Linked DNA regions of Homo sapiens. The protein of the gene in region 1 purifies or fractionates together with the protein of each later gene. This does not show direct contact. Each region holds a gene or a part of one and is shown in the gene's direction. Other genes may lie near its edges. The genes, in order: PTGS2, UFD1 and ELMO1.

The links.
Region 2: the proteins of PTGS2 (region 1) and UFD1 purify together in Homo sapiens (affinity purification with western blotting; one study listed by BioGRID). This does not show direct contact.
Region 3: the proteins of PTGS2 (region 1) and ELMO1 purify together in Homo sapiens (affinity purification with western blotting; one study listed by BioGRID). This does not show direct contact.

What each region holds. Positions count from the first base shown.
Region 1 is NC_000001.11:186,671,190-186,674,414, reverse strand, and holds the end of PTGS2 (prostaglandin G/H synthase 2 precursor), read left to right. Parts: coding exon 1-62; 3' UTR 63-2,624; downstream 2,625-3,225. UniProt on the Homo sapiens protein: Dual cyclooxygenase and peroxidase in the biosynthesis pathway of prostanoids, a class of C20 oxylipins mainly derived from arachidonate ((5Z,8Z,11Z,14Z)-eicosatetraenoate, AA, C20:4(n-6)), with a particular role in the inflammatory response.
Region 2 is NC_000022.11:19,452,238-19,455,286, reverse strand, and holds part of UFD1 (ubiquitin recognition factor in ER-associated degradation protein 1), read left to right. Parts: intron 1-456; coding exon 457-538; intron 539-3,049. UniProt on the Homo sapiens protein: Essential component of the ubiquitin-dependent proteolytic pathway which degrades ubiquitin fusion proteins.
Region 3 is NC_000007.14:37,442,207-37,445,864, reverse strand, and holds part of ELMO1 (engulfment and cell motility protein 1), read left to right. Parts: intron 1-3,658. UniProt on the Homo sapiens protein: Involved in cytoskeletal rearrangements required for phagocytosis of apoptotic cells and cell motility. Acts in association with DOCK1 and CRK. Was initially proposed to be required in complex with DOCK1 to activate Rac Rho small GTPases.

The sequences.
Region 1 (3,225 bases):
GCTCCGGACTAGATGATATCAATCCCACAGTACTACTAAAAGAACGTTCGACTGAACTGTAGAAGTCTAATGATCATATTTATTTATTTATATGAACCATGTCTATTAATTTAATTATTTAATAATATTTATATTAAACTCCTTATGTTACTTAACATCTTCTGTAACAGAAGTCAGTACTCCTGTTGCGGAGAAAGGAGTCATACTTGTGAAGACTTTTATGTCACTACTCTAAAGATTTTGCTGTTGCTGTTAAGTTTGGAAAACAGTTTTTATTCTGTTTTATAAACCAGAGAGAAATGAGTTTTGACGTCTTTTTACTTGAATTTCAACTTATATTATAAGAACGAAAGTAAAGATGTTTGAATACTTAAACACTGTCACAAGATGGCAAAATGCTGAAAGTTTTTACACTGTCGATGTTTCCAATGCATCTTCCATGATGCATTAGAAGTAACTAATGTTTGAAATTTTAAAGTACTTTTGGTTATTTTTCTGTCATCAAACAAAAACAGGTATCAGTGCATTATTAAATGAATATTTAAATTAGACATTACCAGTAATTTCATGTCTACTTTTTAAAATCAGCAATGAAACAATAATTTGAAATTTCTAAATTCATAGGGTAGAATCACCTGTAAAAGCTTGTTTGATTTCTTAAAGTTATTAAACTTGTACATATACCAAAAAGAAGCTGTCTTGGATTTAAATCTGTAAAATCAGTAGAAATTTTACTACAATTGCTTGTTAAAATATTTTATAAGTGATGTTCCTTTTTCACCAAGAGTATAAACCTTTTTAGTGTGACTGTTAAAACTTCCTTTTAAATCAAAATGCCAAATTTATTAAGGTGGTGGAGCCACTGCAGTGTTATCTTAAAATAAGAATATTTTGTTGAGATATTCCAGAATTTGTTTATATGGCTGGTAACATGTAAAATCTATATCAGCAAAAGGGTCTACCTTTAAAATAAGCAATAACAAAGAAGAAAACCAAATTATTGTTCAAATTTAGGTTTAAACTTTTGAAGCAAACTTTTTTTTATCCTTGTGCACTGCAGGCCTGGTACTCAGATTTTGCTATGAGGTTAATGAAGTACCAAGCTGTGCTTGAATAATGATATGTTTTCTCAGATTTTCTGTTGTACAGTTTAATTTAGCAGTCCATATCACATTGCAAAAGTAGCAATGACCTCATAAAATACCTCTTCAAAATGCTTAAATTCATTTCACACATTAATTTTATCTCAGTCTTGAAGCCAATTCAGTAGGTGCATTGGAATCAAGCCTGGCTACCTGCATGCTGTTCCTTTTCTTTTCTTCTTTTAGCCATTTTGCTAAGAGACACAGTCTTCTCATCACTTCGTTTCTCCTATTTTGTTTTACTAGTTTTAAGATCAGAGTTCACTTTCTTTGGACTCTGCCTATATTTTCTTACCTGAACTTTTGCAAGTTTTCAGGTAAACCTCAGCTCAGGACTGCTATTTAGCTCCTCTTAAGAAGATTAAAAGAGAAAAAAAAAGGCCCTTTTAAAAATAGTATACACTTATTTTAAGTGAAAAGCAGAGAATTTTATTTATAGCTAATTTTAGCTATCTGTAACCAAGATGGATGCAAAGAGGCTAGTGCCTCAGAGAGAACTGTACGGGGTTTGTGACTGGAAAAAGTTACGTTCCCATTCTAATTAATGCCCTTTCTTATTTAAAAACAAAACCAAATGATATCTAAGTAGTTCTCAGCAATAATAATAATGACGATAATACTTCTTTTCCACATCTCATTGTCACTGACATTTAATGGTACTGTATATTACTTAATTTATTGAAGATTATTATTTATGTCTTATTAGGACACTATGGTTATAAACTGTGTTTAAGCCTACAATCATTGATTTTTTTTTGTTATGTCACAATCAGTATATTTTCTTTGGGGTTACCTCTCTGAATATTATGTAAACAATCCAAAGAAATGATTGTATTAAGATTTGTGAATAAATTTTTAGAAATCTGATTGGCATATTGAGATATTTAAGGTTGAATGTTTGTCCTTAGGATAGGCCTATGTGCTAGCCCACAAAGAATATTGTCTCATTAGCCTGAATGTGCCATAAGACTGACCTTTTAAAATGTTTTGAGGGATCTGTGGATGCTTCGTTAATTTGTTCAGCCACAATTTATTGAGAAAATATTCTGTGTCAAGCACTGTGGGTTTTAATATTTTTAAATCAAACGCTGATTACAGATAATAGTATTTATATAAATAATTGAAAAAAATTTTCTTTTGGGAAGAGGGAGAAAATGAAATAAATATCATTAAAGATAACTCAGGAGAATCTTCTTTACAATTTTACGTTTAGAATGTTTAAGGTTAAGAAAGAAATAGTCAATATGCTTGTATAAAACACTGTTCACTGTTTTTTTTAAAAAAAAAACTTGATTTGTTATTAACATTGATCTGCTGACAAAACCTGGGAATTTGGGTTGTGTATGCGAATGTTTCAGTGCCTCAGACAAATGTGTATTTAACTTATGTAAAAGATAAGTCTGGAAATAAATGTCTGTTTATTTTTGTACTATTTAAAAATTGACAGATCTTTTCTGAAGATAAACTTTGATTGTTTCTATACATCTTTGTCATATGACATAAGATTTCTCTGAAGCATTACTCTTAAACCATTATCTTGCATTCTCCTACCTATTCAAAACTAGGACTGGCCCTTCATGAAATGGTTTTGCCCTCAATTATATAGAGGCTTCCTAGAGTCACTATTTAAATCTCATAATCCTTATTCACTGCGACACTGTGTTGGAAAATGTCTAGTTTGTGTATCTTTACAGAAGATGGCAAACAAGCTTATTTTCATTGCCTAGTCTAGAAGAAGAAGAAAAAAATACACAATAAGGCAAAGAATAAGACATATATTATGAAGGGGGCACAAAGTTAAGAAGTTCAAAGAGGAGGAAATTATACAAAGTTGGGCAAATCATTGATGCAAAAGCTCATAGGCTTTTGTTGTACCTCTATCCTTGACATCTTGGTAATTTCAATATCTACATGGACCACATATTTAGCATCTTCCCTGGCCTCTCCTCTTTGGCCTTCTCCATTCCAGGGATGGCCTCTTCCACCATATTTCCTGAAATCATACATATCTTGATATCATTATGATTAATTACAGCACCACTTTCAAAATCTTGATTCCAAGCATCTTCCAGCTCACCTATTT
Region 2 (3,049 bases), on another chromosome or scaffold:
AAGTTCCCTGAGGAGCTACCTCAGATGTGCTTCTGTTGCTGGGTCCGGGGACCCACAGCAGACCCTTCCTCTGGTGGCCATGATGGCAGGGGCAGGGCTGAGGTGTGTCAGTTGTCTGTTGTGTGTGTGAAATCAGAATACTGGAGTGAGAGTCTAGCCACCTCAGGGGGTTCTGTGAAGCTCAGGACAGTGACAGTGAGGGCTTCCCAATCCTTCAGATGACCCCTCTCCATAGACAGGTACAGAGCCTAAAGCCCCTGGCCCTATACCCAATATTGATACCAAACCAAGAAGTCAGTTACTTTCTGCTTCCCTCCTGGGAGGATGCCAGGAAGCACCAAAGGGCCCAGGTGGGGTGCAGCAGCATCTTTTCTGCGTTCCTCTTGACTGTCAAAAATGAATTTTAGTCCTTTTTTCCTGGAAATAACATTTCTCTGTCTCTGTCTCTTCTTACAGAGGAATTCCCAATTATGAATTTAAACTTGGTAAGATAACTTTCATCAGAAATTCACGTCCCCTTGTCAAAAAGGTTGAAGAGGTGAGTGTATTTCCTTGTATTTCCTTGGTTGGTAATGAGGAGATTTATTTGCTAGTGATGACTGAAGTTCTTGGCATTCTGAGTAGGGGTGTGCATTAGTCTGTTTCCAAGCTGCTGGTAAAGATGTACCCGAGACTGGGCAATTTACAAAAGAAAGAGGTTTAATGGACTTACAGTTCACATGGCTGGGGAGGCCTCACAATCATGGCAGGGGGCAAGTCACATCTTACATGGATGGTAGCAGGCAGAGAAAAAGCTGGTGCAGGGAAACACCTACTTATAAAACCATCAGATCTCATGAGACTTATTCACTATCATGATAACAGCACGGAAAAGACCCGCCCTCATGACTCAGTTACCTCCCACCGACTCAGTTACCTCCCACCTGGTCCCTCCCACAACACGTGGTAATTCAAGATGAGATTTGGGTGGGGACGCAGCCAAACCACATGAGGGTGTCTGTCATGTTTTCCCTTTCCTAGGGTCCCTCTGCTCCCTGGTGTCCTGTTTTTTTCTGTAGAGCTGGTGTAGGGTGTATGAAACAGAAGACTTGCAGCATGGGGGTCAGGAGCTCTGTCTTGCTCTAGAGCCGACTCCAGGCTCTGTTATCACAGAACTGTGTGCCCTGGGTGGGCTTCGTCTTCCAACAGAGACCTTGAACTTCAAATATAGGCAGCACCTTCTAGCTGAGCAGGGTGGTGGCGGGACAGAGGAAGGCAAGGGCTGAGCATCCTGTAGACATGGGCACTTTGTGGGAATATGGCCAGGCCTGGCAGCAACTGGAACGCAGTCACCTCTTTGTGATGAGGATTTCTACAACACCAGCGCTTCAGACCCATCGCTCTCCTGGTTCCTTTTCTCAAAGGATTGGACCCTTGAGGATCCAGGATCAGGGCAGAGGGCAGATGTACTGAGCCACCCATTCAGGACCAGCTGCTACATGGGAGCCATCCCAATTACTGAACTCTTTTCTCTAGCACTTGGGGTGGTTGGGGACAGAGACCACTGTGAAGTTTGCACACCTGGTCCTACTCACAACCACTTCTGGGCTCAATGTTCAAGTTGAAACAGCATTGGGCATTGGGACCTTTCAGGCTCAGAGGAGCAAACATAGTGGCCAGTCAGACCTCACCCTCCAGCTCCTCCTTCAGGCACCATCCAGGCTTCACCAGCTACAGGCTGCCTTTCTCACTAAAAGCCAGTGCCTGACTCCGACCTAAGACCTTAGCATGGGACGTCCCCCAGGCTGACTGTGACCTGACTGTTGCAAATTTACAGAAGGCAGGGGAGGCCAGTGGGCACAGCAGGCCTGTTTGACCATAAATATGTATTTAAGAAGTATATGTTTAAAGATGGGATTGAAGACATATTTAGCTCTATTCCATCCTGCAGCCCCACTAAGGCTGTGGCTAAAGGTCATGAGGTAAGAAAGACAGTGGAAGAGGAGGCAACTACAAGGCTTTGGAAGCCCCAGGTACCTTAGTAGACCATAGAAAGCCTAGAAGCAGTTCTGTGTAGATTGTGGAATTCTCAAAAGGCACCTCTAGAAATGAGGGACTAAAGACAGAATTCTGTTACTAAGCAGTTAGAGCTGCATTACCCTCCCTCCCCCATCCCAGAAGGCTGGAGGCTCGACTCCAGTAGGTCTCTAGACTACTATCTCTGAAGTGAAGGCCACAGTCAGAAAGCTTTCCATTCCAGCATCTAAATAATAGAGGATTTGTGGGAAGAACAGCCACAGAAACCAAAGGAGCAGAAATCATCAGGGAAATAGTTTCCCCAAAGATGGGCACAATTTTGCAGATTTGAAGGGCTCACTGAGTTCCAGCAAAATGAATGAAAATAGCCCCACTTTGAGGCAAAGAAAGATCCTAAAGCTTCTAGAGAGAGAACAGAGGTATCACCATGCATTAAGGACATCATCAGCCAAGCGCCATGGCTCACACCTGTAATCCCAACACTTTGGGAGGCTGATGCGGGAAGATCATCTGAGCCCAGGAGTTTGAGACCAGCCTGGGCAATATAGGGAGACCCTGTCTCTACAGAAAATTTTAAAAATTAGCCAAGCATGGTGGCACGCACCTATAGTCCCAGCTACTTTAATGCTGAGTTGGGAGCATCACTTGAGCCTGGGAGGTGGAGGCTGCTGTGAGCTGAGATCACACCACTGCACTCCAGCCTGGGTAACAGTAAGTCCCTGTCTCCCAAAAAAAGGGACATCATCTTAGCAGGACACAGAGGAAACTAGAAGATAGTGGAGCAATATACTCAAAATTCTGAGGGGAAATTTTTTCCAACCTAAAATTCTGTACCAACTCTTATGAGCTGGATTGTGTCCCTCCAGTGTTTCTGTGTTGAAGCCCTAACCCCCAGTAACTCAGATAGGGCCATTTAAAGAAGCAATTAAGTTAAAATAAGACCATTAGAGTTGGCCATAATTCAATCTGGTGTCCTTTTAAGAAGAGGAAATTTGGACATAGGAAGGGCCATGTGAGGACACAGCAAGAAGGC
Region 3 (3,658 bases), on another chromosome or scaffold:
AGGAAGGGCATGATTGTAAGGGGATTGAAGTCAGAGGCATCTACTGTGTCCCATTCTGCTCTCCTACAATATGGAAGTGAAGACAGGAGGCTGTAAGGGAGGCTGTGTGGCAGATGCAGGGGAGATGAGAAATGCCTAGGAGAAGAAAAATAAAAGTGAGAAAACATTAAGGTGTTCTGCAGGTGCAGCTAAGTCTTGAACATTTACTAAATTACTATATTGAAAAGAAGCTAACTCTTGAGTGTTTCAAAGTAATTTAACCCCTTTGGGTGTTTGGTGTGAGTGGGTGGGGCGGGTGGGGAAAGGGCTTTGAAGCCTTTGCTGAAGGATGTGGCTGGGGGTGAGGCAAGGAGCTCACCTGATCACACACTGTGCTTACTTCATCAGGTTGCCTAATGCTCAAGGGTTAAAGGTGATCATTCCTATGGAGGTAACATTTCCCTTCCAGATCTAAGACAGTGGATACAATTAAGGTTTGTAACTCAAGCTTGTAACCACTTTTTGGTGCCTGAAACCATCCAAGTAGATAGTTTGGTTTATAAGACATTCTGTTGAATCTGGAAAACGTGGTGGATTAAGAAACCCTCTCTGCATCACAAAGCCTGGAGTGTTTGCTACTAATTGTGCAACTTTAGTTCTGGTTCCTTCTAGTCAACCAGAGAAGTGCTTTTTAAGCTTACGGCTGTAACCCATGAGCGGATCATGATATCACTTTAGTAGGCCAAGACCAGCAGTTTAAAATGTGAAAGAGAAGAGTGGTGTGGAAAACAGCATTTCATAAAACAGACACCCAGTCTTAATGTCAAAGTATTGCTCAGTGTAGGTAACGATTTTAAAAAGCCTGTTTCAATAATTCTGGGGAAAACTACATTTTTAACCAACTTGCCAGGGATTCTGATGACGACGTTCTAGAGGGCTACAAGAAATACTTAGCTATCTCCTTTTAACAAAATACTGTTGGTTTAACCCCCTGCAGGAGATGCTATTTCCAAATGTTGAACCAGATGCAGTTCTGTCGGCTATTGACTTAACTTTTCAAAATGCTACTATTGGCCGGGCGCGGTGGCTCACGCCTCTAATCCCAGCACTTTGGGAGTCCGAGGCGGGTGGATTGCGAGGTCAGGAGATCCAGACCATCCTGGCTAAGGCGGTGAAACCCCGTCTCTATTGAAAATACAAAAAAAATTAGCCGGGCGTGGTAGTGGGTGCCTGTAGTCCCAGCTGCTCTGGAGGCTGAGGTAGGAGAATTGAGTGAACCCGGGAGGCAGAGCTTACAGTGAGCTGAGATTGCGCCACTGCACTCCAGCCTGGGCGACAGAGCAAGACTCCATCTCAAAAAAAAAAATGCCACTATTTGTAGAACTTGCCAGTGCGCTAGGCCCTCATGCTGCCATCTTGGAGGAACTAGAAACTCAAGTGACATGCTTTTCACTTTAGTGATGCAGAAAGGCAGTAGCTCCCTTTGCAATAACTCTTTAACCTTACTTAGAATAAAATCGACAGACTATCCCCTTTTCTCACCAAGTTTTAGTTTAGAACTTTTGAGGTCTTTGGAAATTTACTCTGCTCAACTTCTCCTTTCATATTTTACATCTAGTGTTCCCCACATGAATGATTCTAATTACAAAGACAGTTGTAATCTCTTCTGGAGGCAGCCACACTGCTGGGATGCATGATTAGGTGAAGCATTTTAGCTGACCTGGGCTTGGATTGGCTATCCAAAGAAGAAAGTCAAAGGCTGACAACTCAGCCTGGGCAACATAGCGAGACCACATCTCTCAAAAGTTAAAAAATTAGCTGGGTATGATGGCATGCACCTGTAGTCCCAGCTACTTGGTAGGCTGAGGCAAGAGAATGGCTTGAGTCCAGGAGTCTGAGGCTGCAGTGAGCTGTGATCTCACCACGGTGCTCCAGGTTGGGGGACAGAAAAAGACCCCATCTCTTTAAAAAAAGAGTCTGAGAACTTCTGCACTGTCCATAATAAAAGGATCATGAAGGCCAGTCATTCCACAGGGTGTGGCTCCCAGGACCATGTGTGTGGCCATGAAAGCCTTCCAGTATGCCAGCACAGCATTTTTAGGTTCAGCAAAGCCAGCCTGCATGTACAATGCACACACTGGTTGCAATGCTTATTTCCCTGGATAATTTGGGTTGTTTGAGTGTTAACAATTGGAACTTATCTATATTAGCCAGAACTAAAGCCTGCAAAGCCATATCATGATTCCTGATTACATTAACTACTTGTGTCTTAGTGCTGTATTTTCTAACCTGTTACAATATAAGTGCAGGTACGGTACGAGCAGAATTTGGTCATTGGCCTAAGGTGGGGTGAACAGTTAAGTATCAGATAGGAATACGTGTGGGAGAAGGAATGCTAGCTCATCAAACAGAATTAACTACAGTAACAAACTGGCATAGTGCTGAGTCGAGAAATTAGTCACATGTATAAATAGAAGGAGACGATTCTCAGTGTTCCGGGCCCCCACAAACACTGATTTCCAGAATCTGAACAGAATTATTATTGGAACTTCAATTTTAGGAATTGAGGCTACAGTTTTGACTGTTTTAGTTCTAACAGTTAAGGTAGAAAACAAAACTTTCCTCAGTAGAAAACACTGGAGAGGCACAACTTGCTGGACTAAGGACTGAGATGTGTTCAGTGGGTTGTACTCTGGATAGGGAATGGTGGTTTGAGGGAATGAAAATCAGGTAAGCCCTATAAAGCATTCTCTCAGTGGAGGTGGAGTCATAGGATCAATGCGACATTTTTCTCTGTGGCCTGACACACCCTTCCTCTGGGGATGCTGTTTTGGAAATGATGGAGAACAGTCAGAATAGTATTGTTATCCCATTTTACAGATGTGGCTTGGAGGAATGAAATGTCACAAGCATACTTAGAGAGTGCATCTGAGCCTTAAACCCAACTTTTCTGACTCGTTTTACTGCGTTGTTTCTTTCTCCTGCACCATGATGTCTGCACTGGTTAGTTCCTTCTTTTGTTGGTTCACTGGACTTGCCAGCCTCTGAGGCCAGGATGCCATGTGGAGCTATGCTGCAGTGGTGTCCAGAGAGGCTCTTCACTCCTGTATGTCCTGCAGATGGATGTGCCCTGGGTTGCCATGGTATCCAGGGATGTCAATGCTGCCACTGAGTCCTAGTTCTTCAGAGTCAATCCCTCTCTTTGGGTATCTCATTCTAAAGTTGACCTTAGTTTTGAGAGTCAATGGATTCTTCTCTCAGGGACAGTATGTCCATCAGCCAACCTCATGATATTGAAGCATATGAGCTAGAATGCAATTTATTAATAAAAAATGAGAACAGTATTTGCCAAGAAGAATGGGCGTTTATTCTTTAGCCAACATTTTTCCTCTGTGGATGAGTCATGGTGAAGGCAAAAGCATGGAACCACCTGGGAAGGAACCAGTTGGAAGGGGAATATACTTGACAGTGTTTTCCAGCTCCTCATAACTTTTGCTAATTCTCTTGTTGATAGATTCATACCAACTAAGAAAACCAGAGACTGGAGTCCTTTGACCGTGATGGTTTCTCCTTTGGGCGATGCTGAGGCTACTTGTACGGTTCTTTTTCTACTTGTAGGCTGTTGGCCATTTTACTGACCCATTATTTCAGGCAGTGTCAGCCTCAGTGCTATTGACAT